Homo sapiens: one gene and its partners. The protein of the gene in region 1 interacts with the protein of each later gene in a pairwise test. Each region holds a gene or a part of one and is shown in the gene's direction. Other genes may lie near its edges.

Region 1 (3,750 bases):
GGATTACAGGCGTGAGCCACCGCGCCCAGTCTTTTTTTTTTTTTGAGACAGAGTCTCACTCTGTCTCGCCCAGGCTGGAGTGCAGTGGTGCAATCTCGGCTCACTGCAGCCTTCTCCTCCCTGGTTCAAGCGATTCTCCTGCCTCAGCCTCCCGAGTAGCTGGGATTACAGGCGCCCGCCACCACACCCAGCTAATTTTTGTATTTTTAGTACAGACAGGGTTTCGCCATGTTGGCCAGGCTGGTGTTGAACTCCTGACCTCGGGTGATCCATCCGCCTCGGCCTCCCAAAGTGCTGGGGATTACAGGCGTGAGCCACTGAGCCCGGCCTATTTTATTATTATTTTTTAAGACTGAGTCTTGCTCTGTCTCCCAACCTGTAGTGCAATGGTGCAATCTCGGCTCACTGCAACCTCCGCCTCCTGGATTCAAGCTGTTCTCATGCCTCAGCCTCCTGAGTAGCTGGGATTACAGGCGCGTACCACCAGGCCTGGCTAATTTTTGTATTTTTAGTAGAGACAAGGGTTCACCATGTTGACTAGGCTGGTCTCGAACTCCTGACCTCAGGTGATCCACCCGCCTCGGCCTCCCAAAGTGCTGGGATTACAGGCATGAGCCACTGCGCCTGGCCCTCCTTTTTTCAATATATGTATTGATTTTTTTAAAGTGAGTTAACTTATTTTTATTTTCTTCTTGAGAAAAGTTCTCACTCTGTCATCCAAGCTGGCGTGCAGCGGCATGATCTCGGCTTACTGCAACCTCTGCCAAGTGAGTTAATTTACATATAAAGATTAATAGTACATGTGATATTTGGAAATGGGAGAAGAAAAAATCCCAACGGCATAGAATTTAGGACCTGAGATTGTTTCCCCACTCCCAGCTTTTGCTCTGCCTATTTTCTTTGCCTGGAATTATTTTTCCCTACTCCTAGGTGTGATTGTCAAAATATGTAACCCATATTTTGGGTTCATATTTTGGATTCATATTTGGCTCAGTGGCTCATGCCTGTAATCCCAGCACTTGGAGAGGCTGAGGTGGATGGATCATTTGAGATCAGGAAATTGAGACCAACCTGCCCAGCATGGTGAAACCCCCGTCTCTACTAAAAATACAAAAATTAGCCAGGCGTGGTGGTGGGCGCCTGTAATACCAGCTACTTAGGAGGCTGAGGCACGAGAATCACTTGAACCCAGGAGGCAGAGGTTGTAGTAAGCCGAGATGGTGCCACTGCACTCCAGCCTGGGCAACAAAGCAAGATTCCATCTCTAAATAAATAAATAAATACATAAATAAATAAAAATATTTAGAAGACATAAAAAAAAAAATATATATATATATATATATGTATATATGACCGCCACCCCCTCCCTGGGGGCAGCTTCTCCCTGATGCCATCACAAACCCTCCTGCTCTACTGGTTTCCCTAGATTCCCAAGTAATTGTGCCATCAGACCCCCTGGGAGGGGGCCCCAGGAGAGGCAAGGGAGGGGCCAACCAAAGGTCAGTCCAGCACTAAAGGATCCCCACTAAGGGCTGTTCACCTGCCCCAGGGACTCAGAACACACATGACTCTCCCCACTTGAGCTCAGGATCCCGGCATTACACGGGGCGCGCTGAGCCCCAGATGTCCCTAACCCCTTTCCAGCACCCTCCAGCCTTGCAGAAGCAGCCACCATGCCAGTCTCTAAGTGCCCAAAAAAGTCGGAGTCCCTGTGGAAGGGGTGGGACCGGAAGGCCCAGAGGAACGGCCTGCGGAGCCAGGTATACGCTGTGAATGGCGACTACTATGTGGGCGAGTGGAAGGACAACGTGAAACACGGTGAGTGGGACTCCGGGACGGGCGGCCGGAGTGGGGTCAGAGCCACAGTGGGCAACAGGGCCAGGAAGGCAGAGTGCAGAGCTCACTGGGGACATGAGATGTGTCCCCAAGGCTCCCCCAGGGTGAGCGCTGGCCCAGGCCAGCTGGGGGCCTTCACATGCTGGGGCTTCTGAACAAACTCAGCCCTGACTTCAACTGAGTGAGGGTCTCAGGACCAGCAGTGGACAGAGGGTCTTGAGAAACTGGCCTGCCCCCGGGGCTCTGGGACCTAGGGGGCTCAGTTCCTGCCTTCTGAGACCTGGGTTAAGCACTGGGCTGGCTGGCAACAAGAAAAGCCACGCCCCTGAAGCCAGCTTGCAGTGGGGTTCTGGGCTTCGCATTCAGCTGTGATGCTCTGCAGAGGGCTGAGCGCCAGGCACAAGGGAGGACCCCCTACTCCATCCCACAAGGAGGAGCTGGGGCTCCAAGTCTGACCAGCAGGGGGCAAAGGGGTCCTGTTGATACAAACTAAATCCTGACTGGGGAAAAAAATAAAGAAAAAAGAGCTTTTATTTTAAAATGTGGCACTGCTGCTCACTCCAGTCTTGCAATTCCAGACTCTGTACTCTTTTTTTTTGAGGGGACAAGGTCTTGCTCTGTCTCAAAAAAACAGGCTGGAGTGCAGTGGTGCCTTCATAGCTCACTGCAGCCTCGAGATCCTGGGCTCAAGCAATCCTCCTGTCCAAGCCTCCTGAATTGCTGGGATTACAAGTGGGAGTCACTGTGCCTGGCTAGATTCTGTGCTCTTTTTATTTTTTTAGACGGAGTTTCACTCTTGTTGCCCACGCTGGAGTGCAATGGCACGATCTTGGCTCACCGCAACCTCTACCTCCCGAGTTCAGGCGATTCTCCTGCCTCAGCCTCCAGAGTAGCTGGGATTACAGGCATGTGCCACCACGCCTGGCTACTTTTGTATTTTTAGTAAGACGGGGTTTCTCCGTGTTGGTCAGGCTGGTCTTGAACTCCCGACCTCGAGTGATCCGCCCGCCTCGGCCTCCCAAAGTGCTGGGATTACAGGCGTTTAGCCACTGCGCCCAGCCCAATTCTGTGCTCTTAACCATCCTGCTCTCCTGCCTTGCTGGGTTAAGTGCTTTGCAGTCAAATAAACCTGGGTTAGGATCCCAGTTCCAGGCTGGGTGTGGTGGCTCACATCTGTAATCCCAGCACTTTGGGAGGCCGAGGCAGGCAGATCACCTGAGGTCAGGAGTTCAAGACCACCTTGGCCAATATGGTGAAATCCCATCTCTACTAAAAAAATACAAAAATGGGCCAGGTGGGGCTGGGCGTGGTGGATCACGCCTGTAATCCCAGCACTTTGGGAAGCCGAGGCGGGCGGATCATGAGGTCAGGAGATTGAGACCATCCTGGCTAACACAGTGAAACCCTGTCTCTACTAAAAATACAAAAAATTAGCTGGCTGTGGTAGTGGGCGCCTGTAGTCCCAGCTACTCGGGAGGCTGAGGCAGGAGAATGGCGTGAACCCAGGAGGCGGAGCTTGCAGTGAACCGAGATCTCGCCACTGCACTCCAGCCTGGGCGACAGAGCAAGACTCCGTCTCCAAAAAAAAAAGAAAAAAAAAAAGACTTGGAGGAGAGGGAGTAACTGAGTGGATGTTTGCAGGAACTAGCATAGAAGGTGGCAGGACCAGCTGGAGCAGAGAATATACCTGGGGTGTTCAAGGAACAGCCAGGAGGACGGTGTGGGTGAAACAGAGTGAGGAAGAGGAGGAGGTCAGAGAGGTTGCAGGCCGGGGACAGTGGCTCACACCTGTAATCCCAGCACTTTGAGAGGCCGAGGCAGGCAGATCACTTGAGGTCAGGAGTTCAACACCAGGCTGGCCAACATGGCAAAACCCCATCTCTACTAAAAATACAAAAAATTAGCTGGATCGAG
Region 2 (3,650 bases), on another chromosome or scaffold:
CATTCGTTCATTCCTTCAGCATTTATTGAACACTTCCTAAGTACTATAGGTTATGGTTTTTCTTTTCTTTTTTCTTTTTTTTTTTTTTTGAGACAGAGTTTCACTCTTGTTTCTCAGGCTGGAGTGCAATGGTGCAATCTCGTCCGGCTAATTTTTTGTATTTTTAGTAGAGATGGAGTTTCACCATGTTGTCCAGGCTTTTCTTGAACTCCTGACCTCAGGTGATCCAGCTGCCTTGGCCTCCCAAAGTGTGGGGATTACAGGCGTGAGCCACCGCGCCCGGCCCATAAGTACCATATATTATATAAGATGATATAGTCACAGTGATGAGAGCTTCCCCACCCCTAAGAAACTTGTAGGTGACTAGATAAGCGAAACAATAATTTATTTTATAGAGACAGGGTCTCTGTTTACTAAGCTGGAGTGCAGTAGTGCTATCATATCTCGTTGTAACTTCAAACTCCCGTGCTGAAGTGATTTTCCTGCCTCAGCCTCCTGAGTAGCTAGGCCTATAGGCTCATGCCACCATGCCTGGCAGATTTTTAAGTGTTTTTTTTTTTTTTTGTAGAGATGAGATTTCACTATGATGTCCAGGGTGGTCTCAAACTCCTCAGTGCCTCTCCTGTCTTGGCTTCCCAAAGAGCTCAGATTATAGCTGTGAGTCGTGGCACTTGGCCAATAATTTCTTTTTGACAGTTGCTGCGATATGAGTAATATTAGTAAACGCTAAAGGAATAGGGAAGAGGAATATTGAACCAGGAGTTTCACCTATGGGAAGGCTTTCCATCGTAGAAGGTGTTTCCAGAATGAGAAGTAAAAGCCAGATGAGGAATGTGGTTAAAGATTGCAGTGTATATCCAAGCATGGAGGAAGAAGGGTGCTTGATCTATTTAGAGAACTCTTAAGTGTTTTAGAATGGTAGGAGGTGGGAAGGGAGGGACCACTGAAGTGTTTAGCCCTGTACTAGCTTTATTTTAGTGATGTTTTCTCTCTGTCTGGAATAAATCATTTCTTCCCTTATGCATTGGCTGAGTTATATAAGTAGAACTTAACAGCTGAGCTGTTGAAATGGAGATTATTTATTCAGGTACTGATAACCTTTTGTTTCAAATCATGACTTTGAATCCTATATTCCAGAGGCACTGAAATGTTATTTATTTACCTGTGCATTCAAGAGATAGCTGGCAGCCTAGCAATTTAAGTTACTGTTGTTGTGGTAACTTGAGGGCGATATATAAATCAAACACTGATCCTGTTTTCCAGAAGTTTATACTTTAAATGCATTTGTATATGATTAAAATAAGGTATTAGGTTGGTGAAAGTAGCTGCAGTTTTGACCGTTACTTTTAAGGGTGAAAACAGCAATAACTTTTCTACCATCCTGTACAAAGGGCTGCTGAAGCGTTGTGGGGTCTCAGTGCAAGGAGAGGTCACTTCATCCCTGATGCTTGGGCCACACCTCAGACCAACAGCAGTGCTAAGGCCCAGGCTTCAGATAATTTTGTTTAATTTTTTTTTAAAATTCTCTCCATGATTGGGTAGAGCCAGGGCTGAGAAACATTGACCTGAAGGAATTAGGGGGCTTCATGGAGGAGGTAGTGTTTGTGTTGGGCTTGAGAGGATTTAAGTTTCTCCTGGGCCTTGAAAGGAATTGAAGGATTTAAATGTTTGAATGTGGTGGTAAGATGGCTACTGTAGGTGGAAGATGACTCACCCTTTACCTTGAAAGGATGAAGGAGAAACCCTGATTGAGGTCTAAGAAAAAACAATCATGACCTGCGGAAGGCTTTGGCCAGAGCTGTAGAGTGCATGAGGGTGAGAACGGGGAGATCCCGTGAAAAGGTAATACATCGGCTTTCATATGTTTTAGGCATGAGATGAGCTGAATCCTGATATGATTTGAGTTAGTCTTCCCATGACCTGATGGAAGAGCTGTTATCTCCATTTAAGAAAAGTGAAGCTGCCCAGGTGTGGTGGCTCACATCTGTAATCCCAGCACTGTGGGAGGCTGAGGCAGGAGGATCACTTGAGCTTGGGAGTTTGAGGCCAGCCTGGGTAACATAGCGAGACCCCATCTCAATAAAATAGAATAAAAAAAAGAAAAAAAAATGAAGCTGAGAGTTTATTTAGCCAGGGTCACACAGCTGGAAAGTAGCTAGTGTGGACCTTGGCCTGAGATGTGATCTGTCTAGCTATGATACAACACTGCTTCACAGATAAAGTACCAGCTTCAGGAATTGGAAGGTTATTGATTTTTCTTGGATAACATGGGTACATTTCAGTCATATTTGAATTTTAATTTAGTTGGATTCTCACTTATTTGTAAAGCTAACCGGTTTGTATTGGAAATATTATAAATATTCTGGGAATCTCAAATGTTGATTTTATACTAGCTTTTTAGTTATTTAAGATAAATTTACATTTTATTCTATTAACATCTCTTTGAAAAGACGTAGTGCTTTTTTAGGTTGTCTATTTATGTGTGTATGTGAGACATTTCCTCTTGGGGGATTCTCTGAGACTCACATTTCTGTAGAAGCTTTTTTCAGATATACTTATGAAAATCTGTTCTCTGTTTTGAGAAATCTTGAAAGCTATGATATGTTGCAACTAGACACTCTAGCTTCATTGATTGGAGGCTAAGGGTTCCCGTATTTGTGGGCAGTAACAACAAAATTGACAATTTATTTTGTGTAAAGTATTTCAAATGTCAGTTATTTCTAGAGGTTTTTTTTCTTAAAAAAAAAAAACTCATTAATTCTTTTCATTGTAAAGGAAAGAAACCATCTTTTCATGCTACAAACCCCGACCACCATGAGAATTCTTTTACAGTGTGATTTGTTGTAATCTGTTATAGATCACTTTCATTCTTTCTTTCTTGCTGCATATGAGGGACCAGTATTTTAGGAATAATGTTTTCATATTGTCTGGATATTTTAGGATGATTTGTTAATCAAACTAGCTACAGCTTATTGTAATGATAGCTATTATTTATTTAGAGTTTGTTTTCTCTCTTCTAGGAGCTTTGCCATGAAAAGAACAGTCCAGGCCAGGCGTGGTGGCTCACACCTGTAATCCCAGCACTTTGGGAGGCCCAGGCAGGTGAATCACGAGGTCAGGAGATGGAGACCATCCTGGCTAACACAGTGAAAACCCGTCTCTACTAAAAAAATACAAAAAAAATTAGCCGGATGTGGTGGTGGGTGCCTGTAGTCCCAGCTACTCGAGAGGCTGAGGCAGGAGAATGGCATGAAGTTGGGAGGTGGAGCTTGTAGTGAGCTGAGATCGCACCACTGCACTCCAGCTTGGGAGACACAGCGAGACTGTCTCAAAAAAAAAAAAAAAAAAATCGCCACACTGTCTTCCACAATGGTTGAACTAGTTTACACTCCCACCAACAGTGTAAAAGTATTCCTGTTTCTCCACATCCTCTCCAGCACCTTTTGTTTCCTGACTTTTTAATGATCGCCATTCTAACTGGTGTGAGATGGTATCTCATTGTGGTTTTGATTTGCATTTCTCTGATGGCCAGTGATGATGAGCATTTTTTCATGTGTTTTTTGGCTGCATAAATGTCTTCTTTTGAGAAGTGTCTGTTCATATCCTTCGCCCACTTTTTGATGGGGTTGTTTGATTTTTTTCTTGTAAAT
Region 3 (3,650 bases), on another chromosome or scaffold:
TGGTCCACCAGTCCATTATTCTCTTAGAGAAAATCCATTCATCTTCTCCTCGTGCCTTAGGGGGTTTTTGGGGATGTGTCCCAGGCGTCCTTTATTGTCCTTCTCAAAGAATTTATCTCTCTTGGCCAGGCACGGTGGCTCATACCTGTAATCCCAGCACTTTGGGAGGCCGAGGCGGGTGGACCTGAGGTCAGGAGTTCAAGACCAGCCTCACCGATATGGTGAAACCCCATCTCTCCTCAAAATACAAAAATTAGCCGGGCGTGGTGGCGGGCACCTGTAATCCAAGCTACTCGGGAGGCGGAGGCAGGAGGATTTCTTGAAGCCGGGAGGCAGAGGTTGCAGTGAGCTGAGATTGAGCCACTGCACTCCAGCCTGGGTGACAGAGCGAGACTCCATCTCAAAAAAAAAAAAAAAAAAAAAAAAAAAAAAAAAAAAAAAAATTATCTCAAGAGTTCCTTAAACCTCTTTTATCTAAAAGTTTATCTTAGATGACAACTTTCTTGAGATACTTTCTTACTGTGTGTGAAGTGACAGTTTTTGGTTTGAAGTTAATTTGGCAAAAATTTGGCTGTGGTACAAACTTGGTGTTCCCCATGCATTGTGGATTTGGATTTGTCATGCTTTTTAGTGTTAAAGATGACCCAGGCCTGCCTGGATTCTGGAGGGAAGTCTACTCTCAGCACTTCCTATGAACAGACTTGTTAGTTATTTGTTTGTTTTATCCTGCACAGTTAGGCTAGTTTACTGCCCACTCGTGTTTGAACCTGAAGGTAACTTTAAGGCACAGCCTTCGGATTTAAGTGCAGAAATGTTTTCTGCTAAAAATAGCATACATTTATGCAAAAAATAAACATGCTACTATCTTCTTCAGTATGAAGATGGAACGTAGAGTTTACGCCTCTTCACAGCCAGAAGCTGCTAAAGACTAACTTTTGGCAGAGACTGTGTAGAGGTATAAATAAGCCGTGACTCCTAGCCTGCCATGTCCCTCACTTGTCCTAGGAGAGAATGTAGAGCATAAAAGCCCGCATGGTAGGCTGCTTCGTTTGATAGTGATTTTTTGCTATGAGTAGCAACATAGAGCTGTGCCAGCCTGGAGGCCCCAGGTCTCCTTTGGCTTTCTTTGCAGAAGCTGTTTGTGTGGCAGTTCCATCAGTTCTGGCCAGCAAGTCCCTAGCTTCTTGCCAGCACGATATTAAGATGCTTCTAAAACCCTAATGGGCATCATCAGTTAGCAATGTACTTATTTTCTGTTCTTTAGTGAAGTGATGTCTGGTTATTCGAAGCATTTGCATTTCTAGTGAGAGAAAGTGAATTACCCCAGAAGTCTTCCCTCCCACCTGCCCCCAAGTCTATGGACTGTGTGATGTAGTTACATAGATCATGATATAGCTTACAGTTCAGCACAGGCCCTTGCAAATTTTATTTTAGAATCCAGTGAGAAGAAAAGCATTGTTGCCTCCCAGCCCACCCTCCTGCCCACCCCTGTGGGAACTGGCGAACCTATCTTTCTTGATAATGGGACATTGCTGTAACTTGGTTTCCAGGGGTCTGCTGGCCGGATGCGAAATAACCACATCCATGTACTACACTTGTGCTCTTCTCTTGGGTCTGATTCTGGGCTGCTGTGTACCATTTGTTCTTTCCTTCCTTCAGGCCTCTGTAGTGAGCTGTTCCACATCTGGTAAAGAGAGGCCTGTCGATGATGAGGATGGTAGATAAATGGATCAAAACTGAAGTTCTTCCCTGACAGTGTCCCCTGAAATTGGGTTCCTTTGCAGTACACCATTTTGAATTCTGAAGCTATTAATATGGGAAGTTCAGGGTATTAAAAAATAGATAAATCAGTGCCATATAGTCTTACTCCTCACTTGGCTTGGTGTGGATATACCAGGGTTGGCAGTTATCTGCGTTTTTTTTCTCCCTGTGTCTTATTTCTAACTTTAGTCCAACGAGAGTTTGGGGTTGATGGTCGTCACCGGGGAGGAAGCAGAGTCCCTGAACTGATCCTGGGTCCGTATCGGTGCCATTCCGTGTTCTTGGTAGATTTTCAGAATTCCCAGATAATGGTTCCCAAAGTTTTCTAGCTTCTGGTCATGGAAGGATGCCCAGAAGACGTCCTAGATCTTACATACTTAAACCTGTCTCTGTACCACTGCTAAGAGTCCCGTCACATCCAAGCTGTCACCTAGGTGATGTATCCCTGTTACTGCCTTCCATATTTACTGTGTTCTCACTTGTAAAACAGAGCAATGTTTGAATGCTGGAGACCTCTGCCATGTGGAATTTGAAAATGTCGGGTGAGGATTTCTTGAGTTGACTGAGTGGTGTTTTGCTACAACCTGTAGAGCTTTGTGACCTGGTTTCACCTCATGGCTCTGAGGGTTCCAGAGAAGGGAAAGGTGCCCCTTGACTGAGGACGCAGTGGCAGGTCATCTGCCTGTCCTGGGTCACTGCCCTGAGGTGCAGTCAGCTCTCCCGCCCTGTTATTCAGGAGTCTGGTTCCTGCTATTTAGAGGAGACCAGTCAGCATTTTTCCCCCGTTGCGTCCTTTCCTGTCTGAAGATCACATCTGTCATGCTGCTGTCTCTCCTTTTCTGTGACTGTCTCTCCTCTTGCTGGTGCTCCCTGGTTGTCCCACGGTGGAGGAACCCACCCTGTCAGTGTTTTGCTTACAGCCCTCATGCTCTGAATGGAACCCATTTCTGTCGCGGGTATGATGGTGCACAGTTCAGTAGTAGGTTGCCTGCTCTCTGATTTTATTCATCAACCAATTTCTTGCACATTTAAAGGAAATTCAGAGGGAACTCATAATATGAAGGGGAAGCTTTTCATTTTTCATGTTTTTTCTCATAATGCTGTCAGTTGTTTTAAATGCATGTCTTTTTTGTGGGTCTGTAACAGTGTCTTTGTGCTTTTTCTTGCTCTTATTTTATTAGGTCGTGGAGTCAGATTTGAGTGATGATGGCAAAGCATCTTTGGTGAGCGAGGAAGAGGAAGATGAAGAAGAAGATAAGGCTACCCCTAGAAGAAGCAGGTCTAGAAGAAGTAGTATTGGTCTTCGAGTAGCCTTTCAGTTCCCCACCAAGAAGCTGGCCAACAAACCAGATAAAAACAGTTCTTCCGAGCAGTTGTTTTCTAGCGCACGCTTACAGAATGAGAAAAAAACAATTCTTGAAAGAAAGAAAGACTGTAGACAGGTGATACAAAGGGAAGATTCTACCTCTGAGTCTGAGGATGACTCTCGGGATGAGAGCCAGGAGAGTTCAGATGCTTTGCTGAAAAGGACCATGAACATCAAGGAGAACAAAGCCATGGTGAGGCTTCACGGAGGGCGTCCTGGGAGTTGGCACCAGGCTCTGGCAGCAGTTGCTGGGCTCCCAGAACCACTTTGCTCCTACAGCTGCTGCTGTTGCTTTGGCTTCTGTCAAGAAAATATACTCTGGGTATTGTGTATCCTTTTACTTTTCCAGAACCCAGAGCAACTATTACATGATCAGCTCTGGTTTGGGAACAGAAAGAGATTCCCCAGCACCATTTTTAGCCCCTACATGGTGCCATAATGCTGCTTACTGTTGACCAAGCTAAGTTCTAAGTATATAGTTGTGTTGGGGATGAGAGGGGCTGAACAACTAGCCCGTTCCCAG

Evidence for each region.
Region 2: the proteins of MORN3 (region 1) and FARS2 interact in binary tests that used the Homo sapiens proteins (3 or more experiments, as listed by UniProt).
Region 3: the proteins of MORN3 (region 1) and CDCA7L interact in binary tests that used the Homo sapiens proteins (3 or more experiments, as listed by UniProt).

Annotation. Positions count from the first base shown.
Region 1 is NC_000012.12:121,667,407-121,671,156, reverse strand, and holds the start of MORN3 (MORN repeat-containing protein 3), read left to right. Parts: upstream 1-1,502; 5' UTR 1,503-1,673; coding exon 1,674-1,818; intron 1,819-3,750. UniProt on the Homo sapiens protein: Assembles a suppression complex (suppresome) by tethering SIRT1 and MDM2 to regulate composite modifications of p53/TP53.
Region 2 is NC_000006.12:5,264,422-5,268,071, forward strand, and holds part of FARS2 (phenylalanine--tRNA ligase, mitochondrial), read left to right. Parts: intron 1-568; exon of another isoform or gene 569-657; intron 658-3,020; exon of another isoform or gene 3,021-3,102; intron 3,103-3,650. UniProt on the Homo sapiens protein: Is responsible for the charging of tRNA(Phe) with phenylalanine in mitochondrial translation.
Region 3 is NC_000007.14:21,907,800-21,911,449, reverse strand, and holds part of CDCA7L (cell division cycle-associated 7-like protein), read left to right. Parts: intron 1-2,942; coding exon 2,943-3,320; intron 3,321-3,650. UniProt on the Homo sapiens protein: Plays a role in transcriptional regulation as a repressor that inhibits monoamine oxidase A (MAOA) activity and gene expression by binding to the promoter.